Homo sapiens: one gene and its partners. The protein of the gene in region 3 purifies or fractionates together with the protein of the main gene of each other region. This does not show direct contact. Each region holds a gene or a part of one and is shown on either strand. Other genes may lie near its edges. The genes, in order: RNF10, PTH2R and NCOA4.

The links.
Region 1: the proteins of NCOA4 (region 3) and RNF10 purify together in Homo sapiens (affinity purification with mass spectrometry; one large-scale study listed by BioGRID and IntAct). This does not show direct contact.
Region 2: the proteins of NCOA4 (region 3) and PTH2R purify together in Homo sapiens (co-immunoprecipitation; one large-scale study listed by IntAct). This does not show direct contact.

What each region holds. Positions count from the first base shown.
Region 1 is NC_000012.12:120,561,719-120,565,370, reverse strand, and holds part of RNF10 (E3 ubiquitin-protein ligase RNF10), read right to left. Parts: intron 2,427-3,652; coding exon 2,301-2,426; intron 2,040-2,300; coding exon of another isoform or gene 2,025-2,039; coding exon 1,748-2,024; intron 1,562-1,747; coding exon 1,428-1,561; intron 300-1,427; coding exon 182-299; intron 1-181. UniProt on the Homo sapiens protein: E3 ubiquitin-protein ligase that catalyzes monoubiquitination of 40S ribosomal proteins RPS2/us5 and RPS3/us3 in response to ribosome stalling.
Region 2 is NC_000002.12:208,441,140-208,444,791, reverse strand, and holds part of PTH2R (parathyroid hormone 2 receptor isoform 1 precursor), read right to left. Parts: intron 2,429-3,652; coding exon 2,331-2,428; intron 1,445-2,330; coding exon 1,255-1,444; intron 59-1,254; coding exon 1-58. UniProt on the Homo sapiens protein: This is a specific receptor for parathyroid hormone. The activity of this receptor is mediated by G proteins which activate adenylyl cyclase. PTH2R may be responsible for PTH effects in a number of physiological systems.
Region 3 is NC_000010.11:46,016,986-46,020,637, forward strand, and holds part of NCOA4 (nuclear receptor coactivator 4), read right to left. Parts: intron 3,015-3,652; exon of another isoform or gene 2,338-3,014; intron 1-2,337. UniProt on the Homo sapiens protein: Cargo receptor for the autophagic turnover of the iron-binding ferritin complex, playing a central role in iron homeostasis. Acts as an adapter for delivery of ferritin to lysosomes and autophagic degradation of ferritin, a process named ferritinophagy.

The DNA of each region.
Region 1 (3,652 bases), on a different chromosome or scaffold from region 3:
TCCCAGTATTAGCAGCTAAACCCACAACAGTAGGCCCAGCTGGACTAGATGAACAGATGAAGTGTTTAGGAGGTACTAAGACTCATGATACAGTTCCATAAGTTTCCTCCCCCACTGGGTGTCTAGCCACAAGAATCCCTGAACCCTACTATAAAGAGAAGCAGAGCAGGGGCATTCTCACCTGAGAACATCTCTAGGGTTTCCTTAGAGACCACAGGAGGTTGCAAAGCCAGTTCACAGATGCTGAACTCACAGGTGAGTGGCAAGTGAGAGAGATATCTGTGACGCTGTCGAACATCCTACATTGGAAAAAGGACCAATACTCAACAAAAGCAAGCCTAACTCTGAAAGCAGGGGGTCCTAACCCCGATATCCAACAATATATACATAACACAGCCAGCACTGGGGCTGGAAACAGTAGTGCTCAATTATCCTCATTTTGAAAAGCCAAAGAGAAACTGTCAACCTACAGCAAGGTGGAATAAGCAACCAAATCCAGTTATTTTTGGTTTGTACTGCAAAGGAGTGAACTGAGTCCAGCAACAAATAATCTAAAGCCCATCAGCTGTTTCTGATTTTTTCAAGGCCCCACAGCTGAGGGGGACGAACAGAGAAGATAAAGTTATTTGTTGGCAGAAAAACAGAACAGAAAAAAACCTGGGAACCACTGACAGAATAAATAACTGGGAAGGAAGATAAAGCAGATCTCCCTATTGAAAGACACTTGGCCTGAAATAGTAGAAAATGAAGCCCAATTTTTTTTTTCTGAGACATGGTCTTGCTCTGCCGCCCAGGCCAGCTCACTGCAGACTTGATCTCCCCAGCTCAGGTGATCCTTCTGCCTCAGCCTCCTGAGGAGCTGGGACAACAGGTGCACATCATCATACCCAGCTAATTTTTTTTTGTATTTTTTGTAGAAATGCCCTGGCTGGTCTGAAACTCCTAGCCTCAAGCAATCTGCCTGAGTAGGCCTCCCAAAAGTGCTGGGATTACAGGTGTGAGCTACCACATCCAGCCCATTTATTTTCATTTCTATTCTTTTTCTGCATATGTTTGATGAAAAATTTATAGTACTCAAAGAGTCTAATTTTAAATCTTACAACAAATTTGTGACATTTCTCCCAAGCAATAAGGAGGATAAGAAACAAAAATAAACTCCATCTTAAATAAAAGAAATATCTATATCCCCAAACTACAATCAATGAACCAGAGAAGCAGGGAACAGCATTAACTGATTTAACAGAACCCTGGCATGCTGAGGGGACACTTCACTTACAAAGAATTCACAGCACCATCACTGACAGAAAGACTAAAAATACAAAAACTAAAGGCCTTGAAGGTTTGTGAACTTAGGATGGCTAGGCCTACCTCAAAGAGATTAGGTTAATACTGCTGCCTGACCCTCCATTTCTACAGGAAGGCCTCACCTCAGACATGGAGTAGCCAGCAATCTCCACCACAGTTGCTGAGATCTTCTCGGGGCTCCTCTCCAGGCTGCCGTACTCCCGCACGAGGCAGCGCACATTCACAGGGTGCAGGAACATATGCTGTCCATCTTCCGCTGAGGACAAGGGGCTCTATCACACACCAGTCTTGGCCAGTCCCCAGGAGGCTCCCCACCCCTCCCCATGCCCAAGGGCTCAAGCCACCCAAGCCACAGGATCTAGTGGCGCTCCTCTGCTTAGAGCACCGGGTCACCTCTGAAACACCTCTGCGGCAACCCAGCCCTCTCTTCCGGCACCCTCACCTTGGTAAAAGTAGTAACAAGGAGAGCTGCTGAGGCGTGTGAAGCCTGACTTGGTGATGGGTTCCTGCTGGCTGGACTCAGTGCAAATGGTCCCCTCTTTAAGATTGTCATCTGCTAACTCCAAGTCATCACAGGCCTCTGGCAACCCCTCAGGCTCTGGTTCAGACACTGCTTCCTCCTCTTCTACCAGAGGGAGAGCAAGAGGTCTAGAAGGAGTGTCCAGAGAACAAACTTCCGTGGTTTCTTCATCGAAGGCAGACAGATACTCCAGCACACCCTGTTGCAGCAAACTCTAAGTCAACAGAAAGGATATCTCCTGCTTTCCGAAAGCAATGTGGCAAATGCAGACCTAAGAGCCAAGCTCCCTAGATGTTTATCTTAGCTGTCGTGTTCACTGATTTAACACCCCTGGGGAAAGAACTAATAACAAGCATACAGAAAATACTCATTGTCCCCTCTTCTCTTGAGAAGGTTTAGATCTCACAGTAATGCCTACCAGCTCAATGACAGCATTTGAGGAACGGCAGCCACTTAGTAACAGGAACACACTAACCTTCCTGGGTTGAAAAACAGACTCCTTCGCCAAGGGAGCCATCAGCACCAGTTGTTCCAGAGCAGCCACAACACCAGTGACCTCCCTTCTGCTTCCGGCCAATCCCGACAGAGCCTCTTCCCGAGTCTAACGTGGCCAGAGAGAACACCAGAGAAGGTTAAGTTTCCAGACACACACTTAGCTTGAAGGGCAAGGGCTTAGAATGGCCTCTCAACAGGACCAAAAGTTAAAAGGCAATGAGACCCAATGGGAAGGAATTAGGTGCTTAAATATCTCAACTTTGAGGGAAACAGGAAGCAAAAAGCATGCAATACCCACTAAGGATTGGAATCTGCTTAGAATCTGACACTGGGGAGTGTAAATTAGTTCAATCATTGTGGAAGACAGTGTGGTGATTCCTCAAAGACCTAAAGACAGAAATAAAATTTCACCCAGCAATCCCATTACTGGGTATATAGCCAAAGGAATATAAATCATTCTACTGTAAAGACACATACGGCCAGGTGTGGTGGCTCATGCCTGTAATCCCAGCACTTTGGGAGACTGAGGTGGGCGGATCACCTGAGGTTGGAAGTTCAAGACCACCCTGACCAACATGGAGAAACCCCATCTCTACTAAAAATACAAAATAACCCAGGCATGGTGGGGCATGCCTGTAATTCCTGCTACTCAGGAGGCTGAGGCAGGAGAATCACTTGAACCTTGGAGGCAGAGGTTGTGATGAGCCGAGATCACGCCACTGCACTCCAGCCTGGGCAACGAGAGCAAAACTCTGTCTCAAAAAAAAAAAAAAAAAAAAGAAAGAAAGAAAAAGAAAAACCAAATATCGCACACATGTTCTCACTTCTAAGTGGGAGCTAAATGATGAAACATGGACACATAGAGGGGAACACACACTGAGGCCTATCAGAGGGTGGAGAGTGGGAGGAGGGAGGGGATCAGGAAAAATAACCAATGGGTACTAAGCTTAATACCTGGGTGAAAATCTGTATAACAAACCCCCATGACACAGGTTTACCATGTAACAACCTGCATTTGTACCCCTGAACTTAAAAGTTAAAAAAAATAAAAGAGAATCTGACACAAACAACACTATACAAAAAACTTCCAGAACAGAAATCTAAGAACATGAAACTAACCTAGTTTTTACAAACTATGCTCAGACAGAGGTCCAGAGTAGTAGGAAGGATTTAGCTAACTCCACCTCAGCCTGGACAGCTCTAATTCTATGTAGCCTTTCTTATGCCTGTAATGGCATTTGAACAAATACGGCTGCAACGTATTATAGAAAGAAAGCAAAAGTTAAATACACAGGACTCTACCCAAGGAGCCCTTGGGAGTCAGGGAGAAGG
Region 2 (3,652 bases), on a different chromosome or scaffold from region 3:
AATAATAATTTGTAGCCAGGAAGTAAATAAACATCACAACAGCAATCTTGCACCCGATCTATTACAAATAAACCAGAATTTCATCATATTAGAACACTTTGTTGTACTGGATGCCAACATTAGACCACTAAAAAACAAGTCTTCAGTTTCTTTTTCAGGCTAATATGTCTCCTTTACACAGTAAAGTCAAAACTGTTGAGAGGCCAAAACAGTTATTTTAATGCATCATTTTTCAAGACTATGAACTTGATTCTATTTTTAAAATAAGTTTTTTCTTTAAGAAGTTACCAAAAAAATCACCTTTTCTCAATTTTTTCACTTTATAAAAATAATACACGACCATCACAGAAAATTAGGAACATATAGAAAAGTATAAAGAAGAAAATGTTACCCATATTTTTAGCTTGAATTTATTTTATTTTGGTCTTTTATGCAGCTATTGCTGCAAAACAAGCTGCCCCCAAAGTTAGTGACTTATAACAATAAACATTTAACATATCTTAGAAATCTGTGGATGGGCTGGGTAGTTCGGCTGATCTGGGCTAGGCTTGTCTCGGCTAGGCTCACTGAGTAGAGGTCTACTCTCAACTGCTACACTATTGCGTCCACTTCCTTCTGTTGGGGAAAGCAAGTCTCAGTGCCAGCCCAGAATCAGAATCAGCAGGGACTATAAAGTTACAGGGCAAAGGCACAGATCCAGACAGGGTATTAATTCACACCATCAAGACAATCAATCTACTATACCTAATTTCAGATATATTGCTTCAATGATCTAATTGAGTGAATTATTGGATCAATCTATTTACTACCACCAGGACATTCAAGAGCAGAATCAAGTAACATAAAATTTTATATTGGAACAAGTCTTCGAGTACTCAATAAAGGGACTAAATATCATGGGCTTTTAAATTGCAAGCTTCTGGTTTTGCTGATGGGATTTTTACTTTCGAAAGTGGTGAGCCCCATGACAGTTGCTGTGGTGCCTATGCCAAATACCATTCCAATCTTGTGCATTTTGCAGTTTCCATTCCAGAATATTCTTGAGGAAAAAACCCAAGAACTTTTAATAAAATGATTGATTAGACATGAAAGGACAGAATTGAGGGAGAAAACATCACTATACAAATTGATAATCCATTTTAGTTAGTTCAGAGATAAGTAAAAGCAAGTTAACATGTTTAGTGGACTGTAAAATTGTACTTATTTGTAGTGTTATACAAATTAGTAATGAGAGAAAATGGTGAAAACACTTACATATTGTGATTTGTCCACAGAAGTTGCCTCAATGGAATTTTGTGGGTCATCCTGCATTATTAGGGACTCCAGCTCCTTTACTCCTATGTGAGCATGGACTACTCTGTCTTTGACAAAGATGCTTGTAGCTCTCAGCATGAAAGACACAAATAAGTGCATGTGGATATAGTTCCTAGTGCAATGCAATCGTCTACGGAGAGAAATATTCAGTATTTAAATTTGGATAAAATTAAAAATGGGGGAAACACCCAGTGCGACTGCTGCCACCACCAACCAGCCTGCTCCCCTCCAGCAGGGACTGGTTCGAGACTCCACACAAATTCCAAAATCTGCAGATACTCAAGTCCTTTATATGATATAGTGCAGTATTTGCACATAACCTATGTACATCATCTTGTTACTTTAAATCATCCCTAGATTACTTATAATACCAAATACAATGTGAATGCTATGTAAATAGATGTTATACTGTATTGTTTAGAGAAAAATGACCCAAAAAATAAGTATGTAAATGTTCAGTATGAACACAACCAAACTTTTTTTTCTGAGTATTTTCCATCCACAGTCTGTTGAATCTGGGGATGTGAAATCCCAGTATATGAAGGGTGACTGAATTGGTGCTCAAAATTTTGTAATGATTTCGATTAAGTTGAATGGAATTGGACACATGTTAAAGTGGATAAAAAATAAACCATAACAAAAGCAATAAATACTATTTCTTTATGTGCTGGTATCCAATAATTTGGGAGATTATTTAAGATGAATTTTTGTCCAATAGCACCAAAATCTCTCGGGAACTCATTCAATTCGATGCTGTCTTACTTTGCAACAAATATACTTCAGTACATACTTATTGGGTTAAAGGTTTCATACTACTTTGATACTTTAAGTTTTTAAACAAAGAACCCTGAATTTGTCATGAAAAATTAATTGTCAAATAACATAATAACATTAGGCTGAATTCAAAAACTTGCATTTGAGGAAAACATTTGGAAAATATTGTGAGACCGCTATGTCTTCTCTGGATAGGAAAGACAATGTGCCCCTTCATGGAAAAAGTGATGGGCATCACTCACCTGAAGTAACCAATGATGAGAATAGCCACAGCCAAGGAACCAAAAGAGATGGAGTAGCCAACGGTATACATTACATAGAGGCGTTCAAAGAATTCTTGCTGCAAGGGAAGAGATGCTCATGTATGATATGGGACTATTTTACCAATAAACTGGCAAAGAAATAGTATGTCATTTTTGGAATCTTATTTCTAATTCTCTTTAACTTTTTTAAGCTGTAATTTGCATGCAATAAAATGTAGAGATCTGGAGTGAGCATTTTGATAGGTTTTGACAAACCAAGTTCATTTGTGCCCCTTGCTAGTCAAAAAAACACCCACTATCCACCCCCAGGAAATCACTGTTCCAATATCTGTCACCACAAATTAGCTTTCTCTGTTCACATACTTCATATACCTCTTGACTATTCTTAGACTTCTTAGGATTACATGTTACAGTATATACTTTTTTATCAACATACTGTTTTTTATATTCATCGATATCGTTACATGTATAAATAGTTCATTCCTTTTCAATTATTTTGTTTTAAAATAATTATAGATTCAAAAGAAGTAGAAAATAGTGTAAGAAAAGCCCCAGGTTCCCTTCACCCAGTATTCTCCAAAGCTTACATCTTATGTAATTTTACTAAAATATCAAAACCAGAAATTTAATATTGATGCGACACGCATATTTATAGTTCTATGTCATTTGATCATATGTACATTTTTGTAACCATTACTGTAATCAAGTACAGAACTATTTCACCAACACAAAGTTCTCCTTGTTCTGTCCCTTACGGTGACACCTCCTCCTCTCCACCATGCCAAACACCTGGCAACCATTAATCTGTTTTCTGTCTCTATAATTTTGTCATTTCATAAATGTCATATAAGTAGAATTATACAGTATGGGATCTTTTAAGATTGGACAATGGTGTAGAAATGTGATTGGACAAAAAGGATGTAATCTAATACTAATAGACTAAATGGGGAAACTCAACAAGCGTTTTCCATGTTTCAATCAGGCTAATCCAATGAAGCCTCCATAAAAGGGCCAAGAAAATGGGATATAAAGAGCTGCTAGACAGCTGAATTTACGGAGGCTTGCAGGAAGGTGAACCAGAACTCATCCATTTACCAGAAGGGTGGTGCACCCCAACTCCACCGGAACAGAAGCTCCTGCACTTCAGACTCTTCCAGACTTCGCCCTATATGTCTCTTCACCTGGCTGTTTATTTGTATCCTTTAAAATATCCTTTATAATAATATATAGGAAACGTAAGTGTTTCTCTGAGTTATGTGAGCTGTTCTAGCAATTAATCAAGCCTAAAGAGGGGTTCGTGG
Region 3 (3,652 bases):
TGAAAAGTTAAAAGAACATTAGAATATCATTTTCTATTTATAACACACATATAGTCATATGAGGCATGTGTTCCTCTTTGTAGATTTAGAGATGAAGACTAAAAGGTACAGAAGGATCTTTGATTACTTTCAAAATAAGCTGCAAACAATCAAGTTTAGAACACTTTGTTTAGAAGACGGAATTTTTAATTTCCCCCTTTTAGGTAGAACTTTTTTTTTTATTTAGGAAGAACTTAAGAATGACTTCACAGCTAGGAAGTTCTCAAAAATATAACATAGGGCCGGGCACGGTGGCTCACACCTGTAATTCTAGTACTTTGGGAGGCCAAGGTGGGTGGATCACTTGATTCCAGGAGTTCGGGACCAGCCTGGGCAAAATAGCCAGACCCCGTCTCTACAAAATATAAAAATTAGCCACATGTGGTGGTGTGCATCTGTAGTCCCAGCTACTTGGCAGGCTGAGATGGGAAGATCACCTGAGCCCAGGAGTTCGCAGCTGCAGTGAGCCGTGATTGCACCTGCACTCCACCCTGGGTAAGAGGGTGAAACTCTGTCTCAAAACAACAACAAAAAAGAATATAACAGATATAGAGATACATGTTTTATATAGAGAGAATATATGTAATATATAATATATAAAAGAATGTGCATTATATGTAACAGATTATATGTGACAAAATGATTTCATGATTCTCATATAAAGGAGACACAGAAATTGGTGTGGGTAAATACAGAGTTCTCTAAGAAGCTTGGGTTTAGGAGCGAAAGGAAACACAAATGGGAAGAACAGCATATAATGATAAAATGAGACTGTAACACATGAGTGTCAGTAAAGCCATAACGTAAAACTTGACAAAAGCTACTGCAAGAACAATGACATGATTTTTAAACACTGAGAAAATGACAGCAGTGATTACTAGAGCTCAGAATAGGTTCACTAAGCCTTGTGATACCAGTTATTTCCTTTTGGATTGTTTTACTAAACTGGCAAGTCAAGGTAATGCTGTAGACACAAAGGGATGACAGAAGACTTGTGGCAAGACTATATGTTATCACTGTGGAAAAAGTGAATATTAGCTAAAGAGAAGCACAATTAAACTGAATAATAAGATTATTTTTTACAAAATACTCAAAGGATGACAGACTAAGGCCAGTTTGTAAAGTTTTGAGAGGCACATCCCTGTTTTTCCTAATTACCTGTATGAAAACACACAAGACAAACATTAAAGCTGGAGGTAACATGGGGCTGTGACAGAAACAGATCCCAAAACAATCTCTACATAGCTGTTCAATTTTACAAAACAAAATGTAAGTTTTTTCACTTTAATTAGGGAGGGCAAGGAAGAGAATAATTCCTTTTTAAAGGGTGGAAATTTTTAACCGAAAGTAAATTCTCTATGAATTCGCAGTGTGCTGGGTCTGTGGGAAAAAATAACTTACACACTATTTGACTACATTTACCAAAAGTATAGTGTTTGTCACAGGATTAGCCTGTTCCATGTTTATTAGACTAAATTCAAAACTTATTTCTGAGTAACACACTTTAGAAGAGGACACTTAGAAAAGGGAGAGAGGCCTCAAAACCATGAAACACTTCTCCAGGAAGGAAGGCTGTTTAGCCTAGATAAGAGACGTCTCCAGGAGGACATGATTACCATTCTCAAGTATGTGGAGACCTGTCAACTAGAAGAACTAAATTTGTTTGGAACAGACACAAGGGGGTAAAAAACATTAATAGGAGGCATGTTAGGCAATATATCAAATAACTTCCTAACAGTCCTGAAAGCAATGACTTTCTTGGAGAAGCCAGCTTTGGGGTGAAAAGTGGCCTACCCAGTGTAGAGTCCTCCAAGTGGCTTGACTGCCCATTTCAGACAAAGGAACTTTGCCAGGCCTTGACTGCATCTTTAAGACTAAGTTTAGGGCCAGGTGCCTAACTGAAAGCTGGCTAGAGACAAAAGTGGTGAGTTCTTCCCTCAGAAATAATGTATTCTGAGGGAAGTGGGAAGAGCAGCAAAACAAACTTTCTGTACACTATCTCAGCAAAAGACTCAGATTCAGGAACTAGAGTTTCCACAAGAAACTGAACAATTCAGGAAATTTTTTAACTTCCCCTTGCTGATTTTGTTTCGTCAGTCTCTTTTCTCCATAATCATCTATTAAAAAGAAAGGGCTGCCTTAATTGGATTTCACAGAAATCCCTGTGGAAATTTTTCTAACCCTGGACACACCAACAGTGGTTACTTTGCAGCCTCCTTTTGCATGCCATAAGCTGCCTGTGTTAGGCAGAAGCATTAGTGTGCACTTGGAACTCACTGCAGGGACTATGAAAAATACCTGTATCACATGGGTGAAATGCCGGCTCCGATTTGGAGAGCTGGAGCGTGATGGGCTGCTTCACTTTGCACTTAGGCCAGTCATGCAAGACCTGTTTAGCAGTCTTTCAAATGTGTTACCCAGCCTTCTTCACCTGTGCCAAATTTCTCACTTTTAGCTTCTCACCATTTGTGTGGAATGCCACAATGCCTGGCACAGTGTAAAATTGAATCAATAAAATTAAATTGTTGCTTCACAATGTCAAAACTCCAGAATTCCGGAACATACGGGAGACAAACTCAAATACATACAGTGCTGACTGTATTACTAGATTCCTAAAGCAAGTCCTCTCAATTCAATCACAAGTATTAATATTACACAATAAGAGTAGACTACAGCAAGAGTTCACACATTGGACTTTGCCCTTATCAGCTATAGACAGAATGTAGGATGAGATTTAAAAGTTACAAAACTGATTTTTCCACACACAGTTATCACATTTTTTTCAAATTAAAAGGAGTGTTATCCTTCAAAAGTCATCTTGAGAACTCATCTGTCAGCCACGAAGAAAATCTGTTTCATTTCTTTATGGTAAGTCCCAGGATGCTTGCCCCTTTGCTGCCTTTGGCTCTCTCTGTCCCTCCTCCTCCCTGTGGCGCAGTTAGAGCACTGTCAGCTTTCAGAGCCCAGATGCCAAGAAAGGAGCTATGCAAAGGCTTGCCCTCTTGCACTGTGATGAAGAGGAAGCCTTCAGAGCGGAAATGAAGAGCCCCAACCATGGGTGAATTCAAATCACAATGAGCCTAAGCCAGCTGTACGAAATGTTACATCCAAAGAGACTTGTATGAGGTAACTAGTTCACATGGCCATTTTCAACAGTTATTCACCATTTGTTTCAGGTTCAAGAGCCAGAGTAGCAAGCATGACCGTTAAGAGGTCACTCTGGAGTCTGACAAACCTGAGTTATGGCTGTGTCTCCAAGCTTGAGACCCCTGAGCTAGTAACATAATCTCTCTGGGCCTCAACTTCCTCAGGAAAAAGGGAGACAAGGATGGTTGCTACAGAGGGGCTGCAGTAAGGTTAAAGTGAGATATTATATGTCTACCGGCACTTAGCCTAGCACCTGCACACCGTAAGCCCTCCACATTGCAGTGGTTATTGTTATCAGGTTTAGCTGACAGGCTGTGAACAGGACCTGACAGAATCCTTTAGCCATTTATCAGGGCTATGACCTTGCACCATTTGCCCTTGTGGAACCTAACTTCCTAATTCATATGTGAGGAATATAGACTCACAGACTTAGGGGTAAGGAGGTCGTGCTTATTTAATAAATATT